Regions from separate parts of the Homo sapiens genome. Here region 2 is linked to region 1. Evidence: fine-mapped expression QTL. A gene starts in region 1. The other region holds a variant in brackets. All regions are shown on one strand. Distances are from middle to middle.

Region 1 (8,331 bases):
CTAGATCCTTCCCTCTTTGCCCTTTCTTGCTGGCTTCTCCCCCGGTCTGCAGGAAGACACCCAGGACCCGCTCCATAACCCTCCAGGAGCCTTGATTCTGATGAAGCTGGGGTAAATGCCTTCCCTGGCTCTGTGCGTGGGCACACCCCCCAGCTTGACGACTGGGGTTTCTTAGGGAGCAGTGTCTTTTCCTCTCCTGACCCAGAACCATTGATCCTAGGACTGGACAAGGCCTCAGGAGATCATCTCTCTGCCTCAGGATTGGAACTAGTCTAGCCTAGGTTTGAACCCCAGCTTGGGTCACTTTTGTGAGAGGCAGCAAAGTAGTGTCTCACAGTATAGATGCTGGAGCCAGACTGCCTGAGATTGAAGCCTGAGGGTGATATTTAGTAGCTGTGTGGTGTTGTGCAAGTATTGAGCCTCTCTGTGCCTGTTTCATATTAAAAAAAAAAAAAAGGGATAAAAATAGCACCTCCCTCATAGGAGTTATGATGAGGATAAAAAAAATTAAGACAAGTCTAGAGCTTAGAAGAGGACCTGGCACACAGGAAGCACTATATTTTATAAGCATTTGTCATTATTATTTCTTCCTTAAACTGTTAAGGGCTGGAGTTTCCATGTCTGCAAAATAGGCATTAATAACAGCGTCTAACATAGCAAGGCTTCAGCCGGGGCCTGGCAAATTTAAGGGTTCGAGAGGTAATAGTGGTTACCATTTTATTGCTATTATTTAAGGACCACCAGGACATGGATTTTTCAGAAGAGGAACTTGAGGCTCAGGTCGCCTGCCTTCTCAAGCACCACACCCTTTTGAGATAACACAGCACTTTTATATCTGCCATCTTACAGCCTCATGAAGGTATCGATCTCATTCTCATTTTGCAGATAGGCAGGACATCCAAGGAACCTATAGACAGTCACTCCCCCATAGCCAGTCTCTGTGGGGGCTTCTCAACTCCAGGAGGAAAGGGAGTGAGGCTGGATTCCAAGGCAAGTTTATAGGCATAAAGACACCCCTCCGACTTCCTCCCCTCTATTGGCAGGAGAAGGGGTGCATGCATGCTCAGGAATCACGGTAGAGACCACATCCTGTGCTTTGTCGCCACCCAGGAAGTATATCGGAGAGGCTGGGTGGGGTGAGGCTGGTGATTCCACTGGGCCTCCCCAGAAAATCCTAGAATGGTAGAGCAAAAGCCATTCAGACCCAACCCATTTTATTAATACCAGTGGGGTGTCCTGGGTATATGTCCTATCCCTGTAGAGAGGAAGGGGCTAAGCCCCAGAGGGGTAGTAGGTGTGCCCAGGGCGCCTAGCTGATTAGTGGCAGGGCAGGGGCTGGGTCCGAGGCTGGATCCTGGTGGCCCAGGGCTCCCTCTGGATGCTGCAGTGCGGATGTGCCAGTCACTGGCAGCTATCCAGCACTGCAGTCTCCCCCACTTCATCCCAGGAGTCAGTCTCAAGAGGCCAGGCCTTGGGCTTCCCTGGCCCCTCCTCTGCACACTCACATCTACATTTTGCCCCAGCAACAGCTGTGGCCCTTATCCAGAAACTGCAAGTATTTTCTGTATCTCAGCAGATGCTGCCTTAGGAACAAAGGGTAGATAAGGCAAAGAAAGATGGATGAGTGATTGTCACAGCTGCAGAGGGGGATGAAAGCCTCTGCCTCCTGCCCTCCCCAGTCCCATCCAACTCCCAGAATCCTAAATCTTAGAACAGTTGAATCCTAGAATGTCTGCACTGGCAGTGGCAGCCAGTTCAGCAGACTTTGCTCCAGATGGGGCACAAAGCCTTAGAGAAAGGGCTTGCTCAAGAAGTCCCAGCACATCCGGACTGTAACCGGGCTTTCCTCTGACCCCAGGCCAGTGCCCTCGGCGTGGCTCAGGGCCTGCCTGCTAGGAGGTCAGGGTCCACAGGGGCTGAAACTGGGGCGGTCATTCACTTCACCATGAAGGGCTACGCAGGTCAGGATATGCCATCTGGGTCAGTGGAAGCAATCCCAAGCATGTTTTGGGCAAGGGGGAAGGAATAATGGAGGGAAAAGGGCGGACTCTTGGGGGGAAACCAGAGTCCTTTCACAAACCCGGGAGCCATATGTCCAAATTTGGAATTGTCAGAGAAGACCCACTAGAATCTAGGGAAAGGAAGGAGGAGGCAGGAAGCCGTGGCCAGATTAGTTGTCCCAAAGGACCTCCTGCCCTTTCCCCTTGTAGGGCCTACAAGGGTTGTGCCAGGCTTCCCAAATCTATAATCAAGACTCCCAAACCTGCAATCATTCCATACAGCTGACAAATAAATCAGTTTTCAAAGCCATTGTTTCCTTTGAAAGAGACTGGGTTTCTCAACTATGGACTTGGAGAAGGAAATCCAGGCTCAGAGAGGGAAAGCCACCGCCCAAAGTCACACTGCAACAGGGGCTGGGATTCCGATTCAGGGTATTTTGCTCCCATGCTGGTATATGGGGAATTATTTGAAGCCCCCAAACTTTGGGAAGGCCTAGACCGCTTAGGGGATGCAGAAAGAAGGGTAGTGCCCCTGCCTCACCATAGGAGGCCTCGGAGCCCCGTTGGGAGACTGCATTCATAGACAAGCAGTGGCCCAAAGGGGATGGGGTCCAATGAGGCCCTGAGGTATGTACGACCGGACGTTCAGCTCTCTGCACGCAGGCAGCCCTCCCCCGACACCACACACAAGCCATTTTATAAGCAGCTGGAGGGTCCAACGCTCTTGCTCTCAGTCTTGGGCCTCAGCCACACCCTTCTCTGCGGGTCCTTTGACTGGCGTCCAGCTGACCCCAACCCCGGACCTTCAAAGTCTCTTGAGCCCCCCCAAATTAAGGCCGGCAGGACCAGCCCCTGGCTCAGCTCCGGCGCCCAGGACCCTCAACCAGACCCTCTGCAGCAACGGGACTCCCTCCCCTCCCCCTAGCCAGGGCGCCCTCCGCCCGCGCCTCTCCGCCCCGACCCCAGATTTGCTCCGCTGCGCTCCCCAGACACACCCAGTCTGCGACACTCTCGGGTTACCGCGCCCTCCCGTCCCTGCTCCTGGCGGGGGGTACCCATCAGCCGATGACTGGGCGCTTATTTCTTGTGTCCCTGCAGCCCCCGGGAAGGGGTTCCCAGAGCGACTCCCCTCTCCAGCCTCAGCCCACTCACCGCGCAGCGGAGGCCTCGGGTCGCAGACGGACGCACGGGCGCAGGGACTCGAGGACGCAGCGCTCGCTGGATCGGAGCCCGTTAGCCCAGCAGCAACCGCAGCGCGGGGCGGACCGGGAGGACAGCCGTGGGCTCCGAGCCGGACACGTGGCGCGCAGAGGCCAATCCGGCGCGCCCGCCTCCCTCCTCCACCCCACCCCTCTAGCTCCTTAGCTCTTGGAATCTTAGAATGTCACTAGCCCGAGGGGCTTGCCGGGAGAACCTCCTCAGTTTCCAGCCCCCGGATCTGAGACTGAGAAGGATTAGGGGCTTTGGCCAAGGTCACGCGGCCCTTCAGGGCTAGAAGTCAGGGCTCCTGACTCCGGGTTCTGGACACTTTCCCGCAAATTCTTATAAGTCGCCAAAGCTTTGTTGAGAAACAGAAAATTGAGGTTTGCCAGGGGCACTTTATCTGCCTGATCAGATTCCATGCCTCAACAGCCTCATTAGGTCGGTGACATTATTTACCCACTTTCAGGAGGAGAGCCCAGTCCAGTTCCTGGACCAAGGTCACACAAATAGTGGGTTGCGGAGGCAAGCTTCTTCGTGCTCTGGGAAGCAGGGAAGGCAGGCAGGGAGACCAGCAGTTGTAATCCAGCGCTAGAACAGGAAAAATTGATAAACTGAGAATACAGAGGAAACTGAGAATTATTGTCCCCAGGGGATTGGTAAGGAGAAGATGAGGAAGTTAGAAGAATTGGACAGATACCTGCGGAAAGTGTTCCAGGCAGAGGAAACTGCTGGAGCAAATGCTCCTAGCAGGAGGCCACCTGGCGCCTCCGAGGATCAGCAGGGGGGCCAGTGTGGCTGGAATGGAGTGAGTGGGAGGGAGAGGAGAGATAAGAGGGACCCAATCAGGTGGGACCTCCGGGGCCCTTGAAGGCACGCTGTCTTTTACTCTGAGTCAACTGGGGATCCATTGCAGGATATTGAGCAAAGAAAGGGTATTATTTTTGGGTAGATGAAATCCACACAACATAAAATTAACCATTTTAAAGTCAACAATTCAGTGGCATTTTGTACAGACACAATGTTGTGTATCCACCACCTCTATCTAGTTCCAAAATATTCTCTTCACGGAAAAATAAAACAGTATACCCACTGAGCAGTCACTCCTAACTTTCCCTTACCCCTCGTCTCTGGCAACCACCAATTTGCTTTCTGCTTCTGCGGATGTGCCTATTCTGGATATTTCATATACATGGAATCACATGAGATGCAACCCTTCTTGTCTGACTTCTTTCATGTGGCATTTTGTTTGTTTGTTTTTGTTGTTGTTTTTTCACTCTTGTCGCCCAGGCTGGAGTGCAGTGGCGTGATCTCTGCTCACCACAACTTCTGCCTCCTGGGTTCAAGCAATTCTCCTGCCTCAGCCTCCCGAGTAGTTGGGATTACAGGCATGCGCCACCACACCCAGCTAATTCTGTATTTTTAGTAGAGACGGGGTTTTTCCATGTTGGTCAGGTTGGTCTTGAACTCCCGACCTCAGGTGATCCACCTGCCTCGGCCTCCCAAAGTGCTGGGATTACAGGCGTGAGCCACCGTGCCTGGCCTCATGTGGCATGTTTTTGAAGTTCATCCACACTGTAGCATGTATCAGCACTCCATTCCTTTTTTTTTTTAGTTTCAGTTGGAGTTTTGCTCTTGTTGCCAAGGCTGGAGTGCAATGGCGTGATCTCGGCTCACTGCAACCTCCACCTCTCAGATTCAAGGAATTCTCCTGCCTCAGCCTTCCGAGCAGCTGGGATTACAGGCATGCACCACCACGTGTGGCTAATTTATTTTTGTATTTAGTAGAGATGGGGTTTTACCATGTTAGTTAGGCTGGTCTCGAACTCCTGACCTCAGGTGATCCACCCGCCTTTGCCTCCCAAAGTGCTGGGATTACAGGCATGCGCCACCGTGTCCGGTCCAGCACTCCATTCCTTTTAATGGCTGAATAATTTTCCGTTGTATAAGTACACTATAATTTGTTTATCCATCCATCTGTTGATGGATAGTGCATTGTTTCCCCCTTTTGCTGATTGTGAATAGTGCTGCTAATGAACATTTGCATACAAATACTTATTTGAGTACCTGTTTTCAATTGTCGTTGTGTATTTACCTAGGAATGAAACTGCTGGGTCATATAGTAATTCTACATTTAAGTTTTTGAGGAACTGCCAAACATTTTTTCAGAGTGGCTGCAACATTTTATATTCCCATCAGCCATGTCATGTATGAGGCTTTTAATTTCTCCATGTCCTTGCCAACACTTGTATTTTATTTTTTAAAAATTTGTACCCGGCCAGGCACAGTGGCTCATGCCTGTAATGCCAGTACTTTGGGAGGGCCGAGGTGGGTGAATTGCTTGAGCCCACGAGTTTGAGACCAGCCTGGACAACATGACGAAACCGCATCTCTACAAAAAATTAACCAGGGGTAGTGGCACATGCCTGCAATCCCAGCTACTGGAGAGGCTGAGGTGGGATGATCCCTTGAAGCTGGAAGGTAGAGGCTGCAGTGAGCCGTGATTGCACCACTGCACTCCAGCCTGGGCGACAGAGTGAGAACTTGTCTCAAAAAAACAAAAGTACAAAAAACTTGTGCTCTAGTCATTATGAAATGGCATCTATAATTGTGTTTTTGATTTGCATTTCCCTTCTGACTAATGATGTGGAGTATCTTTTTTGTGTGCTCATTGGCCACTATTTGTACATCTTCTTTGGAAAAATATCTAATCATGCTTTTTGCTCATTTTTAAATTGGATTTTTTGTCTTTTTTGTTGTTAAGTTATATGAGTTCTTTTTATATTCTGGATAAGACTTTTGTGTTTGTTTGAGACAGAGGCTCGTTCTGTTGCCCAGGCTGGAGTGCAGTGGTGCCATGTCGGCTCACTGCAACCTTCACCTCGTGGGTTCAAGCAATTCTTTCCGCCTCAGCCTCCCAAATAGCTGGGATTACAGGCACCTGCTACCATGCCCAGTTAATTTTTGTATTTTTTTAGTAGAGACGGGGATTCATCATGTTGGCCAGGTTGGTCTTGAACTCCTGACCTCAGGTGATCCACCTGCCTTGGCCTCCCAAAGTGCTGGGATTACAGGTGTGAGCCACCGCACCTGGCCAAGACATATTTTTTAAAGGGTCACTGAAGTCTCCTGTGTTGGAAATACTGAATACTGTTGGGGGAAGAGTAGAAGAAGGGGATCTGCTAGGAGATTTTGCAGTAATCCAGGCAAGAGACAGGCTGGTATAAATGCAGGTGGGGGAAGTGGTTGGAGATGGGATGTATTTGAAGGTTGAACATGATTTCCGAAGGATCAGGTGGGAGATGAGAAAGAGTCAAGAATGGCTTCAGGGATCCTGGCCTGAGCCACTGGAAGGATGGAGTTACCATCAACTGAAATGAGCAAGACTGCAGGGAAAGCAATTTTGGGAATTAGAAGTGGGGAAAAGATCAGGAGTTCAGTTTTTGACCAGTTTGTTGAACATTTCTATTAGACACCCAACAGGAGATGTCAAGTACGCAGTTGGCTAGTCAAGTCTGGAGTTCAAGAGATGAGATCCTTAAGGGAGAAGAGAACTAAATATGGAGTCCTAGTTCGGCAAAAGGAGTCAGGCTGGCAGGACCAAGGGAAAGCAAAAAGAGAAAGCAGATAAGCTATAAGTCTGCCTTTCTTCATGGCCCAGGATGCATAGCCCTCCTGTGCGAATAACTCACAATCTTATCTGCGCCCAGCTATTGCCAGACCCTCACCTGATAGAAAAATGCACGCAAGCTCCCTGCACCCTTGATGTTATCAGTACTGCACAAAGCCCTCTTCAGCACACAGCACAAGCACCATCCTATAAAATCCTTAGCCAGATTTTGTTTTCTTGCAGTTAGCTTCTGTTTTGCTAACTTGCCCGTTGCACCCTTGCAACGTATTTTCTTTTCTTTTCTGTTTTTCTTTTGAGATGAAGTCTCACTCTGTCGCCCAGACTGTAGTGCAGTGGCACTATCTCGACTCACCACAACCTCCGCCTCCCGGGTTCAAGCGATTCTTCTGCCTTAGGCTCCTGAGTAGCTGGGATTACAGGTGCGTGCCACCACACCTGGCTAATATTTGTATTTTTAGTAGAGATGGGTTTTCACCATGTTGATCAGGCTGGTCTCAAACTCCTGACCTCGTGATCCACCTCGGCTTCCCAAAGTGCTGGGATTATAGGCATGAGCCACCACGTCTGGCAGCAATGTATTTTCATACTTTCTCTAATAAATCTGCCTTTCTTTACCTACAACTGCCTTGGTAAATTCTTCTTACTGCCTGTACCGCCAGCCCCAAATAGTTGCTGATCACCCACGATGCTAAGGACCGAGTCTGAGACACTCTTATGTTACCATTTGGGGAGAGGCCGGACCCGGTGGCTCATGCCTGTAATTCCAGCACTTTGGGAGGCTGAGGTGGGTGGATCACTTGAGGCCAGGAGTTCAAGACCAGCCTGACCAACATAGTTAAACCCCATCTCTACTAAAAATACAAAAAGTTAGCTGGACGTGGTGGTGCATGCTGTAATCCCAGCTACTTGGGAGGCTGAGGCAGGAGAATCACTCCCAGGAGGTGGAGATTGCAGTGAGATGGCACCATTGCACTCCAGCCTGAGAGACAGAGTGAGACTCTCAAAAAATAAAATAAAAGAGTTGGGGAGAAGAAAAGAATTCAGCAAAGGTGACTGGGAAGGAGATTGTAGTAAGATGGGAGGAAACTACCCCAGGAGAATGTGGCAGCAAAGTGAAAAATAAGGGAGTGATCAGGTGTGTCAAATGCTGCTTTTAGGTAAAGTAGGACAAGGTCTACAAATCTATCATTGGGTTTAGCAATGTGAAAGCCAACTTATCTCTTGCTGTGAATTGCAGAATGTTGGGGGTAAAGGCCTGATGGGAACGGTGTAAGATAAAAAGCCTAAACTACTTATTCTGGGAGTTTTGCTGCGAAGGCCAGCAAGGGAATGAGGCAGTGTCTGGCAAGGGAATTGGTGTCAAGAGAAGGGCTTTTGTTTGATTTTTTTAAAGATTGAAGACATAACAGCATATTTGTATGCTGGTGGGAGTTATCATATAGAAGGTAAAAAAATTGATGGAGGAGAGAGAAGGGAGAATTCCTGCAGCAATGTTTGGAG
Region 2 (8,331 bases), 54 kb before region 1:
AAAAGAAAACAAACACGCGCTAACCTGCAATAAACTAGTCTGGTCAGCCAGGGTAGGGAGAAGTGCCCTTTGGCCAGCAGCCAGCCCCATGCCATGGTCACTGGACAATCTTAGACCAAAGCCACAGACCAGAAGTAGGGCAGCGGGGGAGGGAAGGCAGAGGAACTGCAGTTGCGCCTACTTGCTTATCAGTGACCTGCATGAAGGAAACTTTCCATGCACCTCTCCAGATCAAGATCACATCGGGCACCCTTGCATAGTTCAAAAGAGGAAGTTTGGGCTTGGTTGAAATGGATGAAGAGCATACAGAAATGTCCAGACAGCGAGAGGGGATGAGGGGGAACCTGAGGCCCGGAGCAGGGCTGGGCCAGCCTTCCCAGGCTTGCTGCAAACTCAGATTCTCCTGTGCGCTTCCCGGGAAACACCTTGCAAGAATTTAAAGACGTAACTCGCTCCTGGACAGACTTTACAACCTCAAGCTCTAATGAGGAAAATCCAGGCTGCAGGCTCTAGGTAGAAGACAGAGGCCCTCACTGGAAATGTGTTTATGTGTTTGTGTATCTCTTTTTATTTCTTCCTTAGAAATAAAAAGTGTCAAGGGAATGAATCGGAGGCATACTTTAGGAAGTTAATGTTAGAAGGGAAGCCAAGATTTTTTTGTCCAACTGTCTCATTGTAGATAAGAAAATAGAGACTCAGGGAGGGAAAGGGGCTGGCCTAAGGTCAGAAACAAGTGCATGGCAGATGCAGATTTGAACCCAGGCATCCAAATTCCTGGTCCAGTACTCTAGCGCGGCCTGGATGGAGATGGGTGGTGAAATGGATGGGAAGATTTGTCAGTTTGCCCCAGCACATTTACTATCCTTCCCACCACCCCGCCCAGCACATTCAACTGGCCCCTGCCACCAACCCCCTCATTCAAAGTACAGACACTACTCATTTTACAGACAGAGGTTCAGGATGTTTTTGGATCTGACATAGCCCAAACCAGGGCAGAGGCTGTAGCAAGGGGAGGAAGCTGGGAAAGCCTGAGGGTCAGAGGGGAGTGGAGGTGGACAGGATCTATGGCTACGGTTTTTCAGCCGCTCAGCCGTGCTGGGCCCTCGATGGCCCGTGGGAGTGGGAGCGTTTCCTAAGCTCCACTGAAGATAAGAGCCCAACCCAACCCCTCCCCCCACCCCTGCCCCTTCCTTAGTCTCTGGAGCTGGAACAATCAGGCTTGGCCATGGCGGCTGGTGCTGATAACCATTTCTTGGCAGAAGTGCCCGCCAAAGCTGTGGCCCTAGTCCTCACCACCACAGAGAGCCAGCAAGGCCTTCAGGAAGTCTCCGGAGGTGTCACCCTGGCAGAGGCAGAGAGCAGAGTGAGTGAAAACAGTCCTTCCAGTCTCAATGCCCCCTCCTCCCGGCTGCCCATCTGTCTGGACATCTCCCTCGGCTTCTCTCCATGACCAACATAGGATCCCATGCCACATGTAGGCTACTGGGATCTCCCAGACACATAAATGTGACCACGTCCCTTTTGTTTATCCCCAGGAAGATATGCAAGCTCCCGGCCTGGCTTCAAGGCCCTTTGGGATCTGACCTGTGCAGAGCTCTGCAGCTTCACCTGTTCCTTTCCCCCAGGAGCATCTCAGTCCTCTCTCCACCTGTCACTCCCCTGTCCAACATGCCCCTGTGCACCCCCAATCCCATTTGCCAGCAGGGCCCTCTCCTCTGAGAAGCACTCTGGCCACTCTCTTGCGTCAGGAGGCACAGTGAACTCTGGCCTCCCTTGGTTCCCCTGGCACTCTGCTGATACCCTCCCCCATGGCCCTTGGCATATCGTGTTAGGTGATTTCTTATTTGAACAAACAACATTGAGTGCTAACTGCCAAGCCATTGCTGGGAATGGGTACAAACACCATCACGCTCACCACACATCACAGTGGTCTGGTATACGTTCAGACTGGGGAGGCCAAACTTCCTGACCCATGGTATGGTATGGATCTCCCTTCTGAGGGACTCCTATCATTGTTATGAGACATGGTTTTCGGGATTTTGTTTGTCCTTGTATTTTTTGATGTATGATTTTAAAACATAATATAGTATCAAAATGTGCCAACAATTTACTTACATTCCTACTAAGTCTGTAAGAGACTGCCTCTGAGATGCCCATAGTCTCGTTAGCCAAGTAGAACCAAGCATCAGACTTTAAGATCTTGGCTGATCTCAAAGAGCAAAAATATAAGCTCCATATGTCAAAAAAGTCAGACGCAGCCAGGTGTGGTGGCTCACACCTGTAATCCCAGCACTTTGGGAGGCCAAGGCAGGTGGATCACTTGAGGTCAGGAGCTAGCAACCAGCCTGGCCAACACAGTGAAACCCTGTCTGTACTAAAAATACAAAAATTAGCCAGGCATAGTGATGCATGCCTGCAGTCCCAGCTACTCGGGAGGCTGAGGCAGGAGAATTGCTTAAACCCAGGAGGTGGACGTTGCAGTGAGATGAGATGGCACTGCTGCACTCCAGCCTGGGCGACAGAGCAAGACTCCGTCTCAAAAACAAACAAACAAACAAAAAGTCAGACACAAAGGGTCACATATTAGGTGATTCCATTTATATGAAATATTCAGAAAAGGCAAATCTACAGAGACACAAAGTAGCTTGGTGGTTGCCTATGGCTGGGGATGGAACTAGATAAACAGGTATGAGAGAGCTTAGTGGGATGATAGAAGTGTTTGGAAACCAGCTGCATTATGGGAATGGTTGTACAACTCAGTAAATTTACTAAAAACTGTTGAATTGTACCCTTAAAACAGGTGAATTTTATGATATGTAAGTTTTTCGTTTGTTTGTTTGTCTGTTTTTGAGATGGAGTCTTGCTCTGTTGCCCAGGCTGGAGTGCAGTGGCGTGATCTCAGCTCACTGCAACCTCTACCTCCTGGGTTCAAGCGATTCTCTTGCCTCAGCCTCCTGAGTAGCTGGGATTACAGGCATGAGCCAACACACCCAGCTAATTTTTGTATTTTTAGTAGAGACAGGGTTTCACCATGTTGGCCAGGCTGGTCTTGAACTCCTGACCTCAAGTGATCCACCTGCCTTGGCCTTCCAACGTGCTGTGATTACAGGTGTGAGCCACCATGCCTGCCCATGATATGTAAGTTATACTTCCATAACATTGCTTTAAAAAAAGCAAAAAATGGGCTCTTGTTTTATTTGGAAATCTTTAATTATAAACCTTTGATTCTTTTGGAATTGATTTCGGTATAAACAATGCAATACAGACCCCCTTTCATTTCAATATCCTGGCTGTTCTAAGCGGTAACCCACTGGAAAAAAGTCCATGGGAATAAAGACTTCTAATCTTATATTAGGGATCTGACACTC[A/G]CCCGCTTCCTGCTAACCTCTAGCCCCTCCCCTTACCTCAATGGCTTGGTGGAGAGACTTGTCATATTTCTCAATGAATTCCCTCCGGATGTTGAGCAGGTCAATCTCACTGCGGGATACCATGATCCTGGTCAGAGTCTTCTCATCTGTGCCAGCACCCTGGTGGAGCCAGGCAGGAGGGAGACACAGGCGGAAGGAGAGATAGAGCCCAGTCAGGCAAGAAACAGTGGTATCCCATCTGCCTTTCTCCCTTGTTCCTTCCAAAAACAGGGCGGATGTTCCACCTCTGTCTTCTGCAAACAGTCCTGACCAAAATCCCTCTGTGCCCAGGACTGGCCAGACTGACACGCAAAAAAGATGTGTGTGGGTTGAATAGTGTCCCCATGTCCACCTGGAAACTCAGAACATGATGTAATTTGGAAATAAGGTATTTGCACATGTAATTAGTTAAGATGAAGGCATACTGAATTAGATTGAAGCCTAAACCAATAACCAATATCTTTAGAAGAGGGAGGGCACAGACATACACACAGAAAAGTGGCTAGGTGAGGACAGAGGCAGAGACCGGAGTGATGCATTCACAGCCAGGAAACACCAAGGACTTCTGGCAACCACCAGAAGCTAGGAGAGGCAGGGGAGTGCTTCTCCCCCAGAGCCTCCAGGAGGACCCAACCCAGGCGACACCTTGATTTTGGGCTTTTGGCCTCCAGAACTATGAGAATAAATTTCTTTTGTCACCCAATTTCTGGAATGTGTTACACCAGCCCTAGGAAACTACCACCGGGCCCAAGGAGCAGGCACAGGGCATGGAATGTGTGGGCAGCCAGAGCTGCCTCTGCCCCCAGGGAGCGACAAGCACCAGCCTAGGAGTCAGAGCTAGGTTCGAGTCCCAGCTCTGCCTCTTAGGAGCTATGTAAATGTGGGCAACGTTTTACCCTACCTAGGCCTGAGTTTCCTCCTCTATCAAATGAGGATGCTACCACAATTTCACAGGACTGCCATGAGGGTCAGCTGTGGTCAGAGAGATGAAGCCCTTGGCACAGGCTTGACACATCGTGAGTGCTCAATGAATGGCTGTCACATTTGGAGACTGTAGGGTGAGGGTCTCAGGTTCCTTCCTACCCTCCCACCTGCCCAGGCTATCTGCAGTTGAGACTCCAGTGGCTGAGAGGGTGGCCAGTGTGGCTTGGGCTCTCCCAGAAGGGCAGGACTAGACTCAGAGGGGAGCGCTTGTGACCTTTGATGACTATTTGTCCTAGGAGACCCTGTGTCCCCGGATAGATTGTGAGCTCTGAGAGGGCAGAGACTGTGTCCTACCCAGCCCTGTGTGCCTCCAGAGCACATTTCTCAACCTTGGCATTTGGGGCTGGATAATTCTTTGTTGCGCAAGCTTATCCTTTGCACTGAGGTTGTTTAACAGCATCCCTGTTCTGTCCCCACCAGATGCTGGTAGCAACAATCTCCAAGTTGTGATGACCAAAAATGTGTCTGGATATTGCCAAATATCCTCCGGGGCGGGGGAAGGCGGGGGAAATCACCCCCAACTGGGAAATACCATCCTAGAGCCAGACAAGGGCAGATGCTAATAAATGTCAAATGGGAAGAAACAGCTGCCAGGAATCCTGATCTGGGGGATGGTGCACATCTGTGTGTTTGTGTGTGTATGTAAGTCAGTGCTTGAAGGGAAAGGAACGCCAGCATGTTTTCTTACCTTCATGGATTTGTAAAGTTTGTCGGCAAAGAAGAGAGGCTTGTTCTTGACACTTTGAACTGGTAGGAAGAGCAGAGAGATGCGGGGAACGTGGTCAGAGGCTGTGAACCCAGACTCTGGACCGGCCTCCCCCATCTCCCCACCTCGTCTATCCCTGCATGGGTCTGCAGATCATTGTCAACCCCAGGGTCATGCTCAGACGACACCTTTGCTCCCCTTCCCCATGCTTCCTCCTCTGGCCCATCCTTAGGCCTGGCTCTCAATTGGTTGCAACTCTCTTCCTTCTAAGGTGCTTACAGCTAACCAAGGTCAGGAGAGGATTCAAAGGTAATTAACTCCTCATGAACCCAAGGCACGGGGCCTCAAATTTTTAAATGCATTGGAATCACCCAAAAAGCTTGTTTAAAACTCAGGGTTTAGGCTCCACCCTAAAGATTCAGATTTTGGAAAGATTTTGAGCAGTGGTTCTCAAAGTGTGGTTTCCGGACCAACAACATTAGCATCACTTGAAAACTTGGAAGAAAGGCAGATTCTCATGCCTCAGATTCCAGATTCCAGAGATGCTGAATCTGAAACTCTAGAGGTGAGTGACCAGCTTGTCCTAGTTTGCCTGGGACACTCCAGGTTTTATTAGGTTGGTGCCAAAGTAATTACAATTTTTGCCATCACTTTCAATGGCAAAACTGCAATGACTTTTGCACCAACCTAACAGCACTGAAAGCCTTGCGCAAATCAGGATGGTTGGCCACCCTACTCTGGTGCAGCCTAATGCTTGAGAGTTACTGATTTAGAGAAATATTGCTCCAAAGAATGACTGTCCGTTGGTAAAATTTAAGGGACCATGCAAATCCCTGGGGCTGAGTGTTTCCCCAGGGCCTGAACAATCTTGCAGGATTGGCAGCCCCTGCTCCCTACCCTGGCTGCAGATAATGCCTGCCTGGTTTCACCAACCCCGCCCTTTCTCAAAGCCTAGGGTTCTCTAGCCCTTCACAGCTGCTTGACTGCAAGGCTCCAGAGCCCACGCACAGGTGTCTCAGACAGCTTAAAAAGGAGGAACCAGACACCAGTACTATAGCTGGAATGACTCTGGATATAATGAGAACAGACGGCAAGAGGCTGGAGTTGCGTACCCCAGTGGCAGAGTCAAGCAAGACTCCTCTGCAACAGGCTCAGGAACCCTGTGGAAAAGATCACATCACACACCTCCCATCTCCAGCTCCTTACATATCTCCCTACTACCTCCCAAACAAATCCCAAGCTCCTTGGCTTGAATGTCAAAGCTCCTGGCCTCCTTTGCAACCTCATGGCCCTTGCTCCCCCATTCCCAGAACAAACTGCAAATTCCTGTGTCTCTCTGTCCTTCCTGGATAGATGCATTTCCTATCTGCCCTTCACTACATTATCTCTCTAAATCAAATCCCATCCTTCAAGGCTGTACTTGATGTCCATGCCCCCAGTCATGACATCACCTCCAGGAAGCCTTCCCTGACTTCAGACCTAGGGCTTTATCAGTCTGGCTAAGAAGCACGCTGGGCAGAAACTTCTCTCCTCTGTAACCAACCCCACAAGTCTTCCTAAAAACTGAGCCTGTCCATCTGTCACATGGGACCCCGATGCCTGCCATTGGATGGAGGAGTGTGAAATGGTGTGTTGTGGTGTGTGTTTGCACGTGTATACCTGTTCAAGGTGGGAGGAGAAAGGGAAGAGGGAAATACACGAGGAGGGTAGGAATCTGAAAGTGTCTCCAAAGGCTAATTATTCTGGTGTTAAGAACATGAGCTTTGGAGGTAGGCAGCCTGTGGTTTGAGTCCTGGTTCTACTGCTATAAGCCTCTCTGAACTCAGTGTCCTCTTTTGTAAAATAAGCTGGTTAAGAGCACCTGATGAGAATGTAACTAAACCTGCGTGCAACTAACTTTGCGCAGGGCTTGGTGGGAAACAACAATACAAATACAAACTAACCCTTGTCCAGTGAGTATTACATGCCAAGAGGCACCGTTCCAAGTGCTTTACATATAATTAACTAATTTCAGCCTCACAAAATCCACCCTATGGGCTGGGCACTGTTGTTATCTCCACTTTACAAAGGAGGAAATTGAGACACAGAGGTTTTGTGACCTGCCCAAGGACATATAGTGAGTAAGTGGCAGAGCAGGGATTCAACCTGGATTCCATGCTTTTATTCGTCGGGCTATCCCGCCTCCTAGATATTGCTCCTGGGTGGTAAAGGCCCATCACGTGCTAAACAACACCCCTACCACCACCTCTACTTCACCCAAATCTAACACACCTTTCCCCCACATTTTAGTGTCTCTGAAATCAAGATGTGTTTTATAATTGAAGGCAATTATGTGAAAATCTTCCACGGATACCTCTTGGTAAGATTTTTTAAAAGTGCATTGATGCAATGTGTTTTATAGTAAATGAAACAAGATACCACTAATGATGAATATTAATGAGAATAACTTCAGCCCTAACCCATATCCACTCATCCATATTTATACACGGTGGAATTAAGATCCAAAAGGGAAAAACCTTTTCAAAGTCAAGAGCTCAAATTATATAAGCGTAACCAAAAAGCCAGGTACTGAGAGGAGACGAGGGTCTGTGTGTGTGTCATCTGCATCTAGCGTGTATGTGTCTTGTATGTGTGTGCATGTGTGCTGCGTATATGTGGTGTGCATGGGTCATGTGTGCATAGTGTGTGAGTGGTGTGTGTGTAGGTGTAGTGTCTTGTGGGGGTGTAGCATGTATGTGTATATATAATGTGTTCTGTGTGTGATGTGTGTATGTGTGGTGTGCACCTGTCACATGCATATGTAACGTGTTTTATGTATGAGTGTGTGTCACATGTGAGAATGTGTGTGTGTATAGTATGTGTCTTGTATATGTTAGGTGTGTGTGTCAAGTGTGTGTGTGGTGTGTGTGTGTATACACCCTAGTTGTGCAGGACAGCGTGCCCCCTCCCCTGCCTGCCCCAGTCTTCCTGGTTCTTCCCTAGCAACAGTTATTTTCTCACCCTCTCCTGCAGCCTCGCACAGACCTCATGACATTCCTGCACAATCACACATTTGGCAGCACCCCTGGAGGCGAACTGTGACAGTGTTTACTTTCCAGTAGTAGCTTCGGAGGCTGCCAAGGTTCTATTCTTCCAGAGAATCTGTTCAAGTTCCCAGTGCCCCCAGCCCTTCCCTTAGTCCCTGCCAGTTACCAATGGCCACAAATGCATCCCTGACATCCCCAGACATCTCCT

Evidence for each region. PIP is the estimated chance that this variant, and not a neighbour inherited with it, causes the effect.
Region 2: its variant is fine-mapped to the expression of ANXA6 in whole blood (INTERVAL, PIP 0.97).

What each region holds. Positions count from the first base shown.
Region 1 is chr5:151,154,528-151,162,858 of GRCh38, forward strand. It overlaps ANXA6 (annexin A6), which reads right to left and starts at 3,252. Exons shown (of 26, transcript NM_001155.5): 1 at 3,153-3,252. RefSeq lists an enhancer at 3,413-4,269 and a silencer at 4,065-4,124.
Region 2 is chr5:151,100,166-151,108,496 of GRCh38, forward strand. It overlaps ANXA6 (annexin A6), which reads right to left. Exons shown (of 26, transcript NM_001155.5): 23 at 8,290-8,331; 24 at 5,080-5,138; 25 at 3,405-3,527; 26 at 541-1,342. The coding sequence ends at 1,283. Among named protein-coding and RNA genes, the nearest start is that of TNIP1, 23 kb to the left of the region's middle. The variant A/G (reference allele first, on the strand shown) is at 3,369.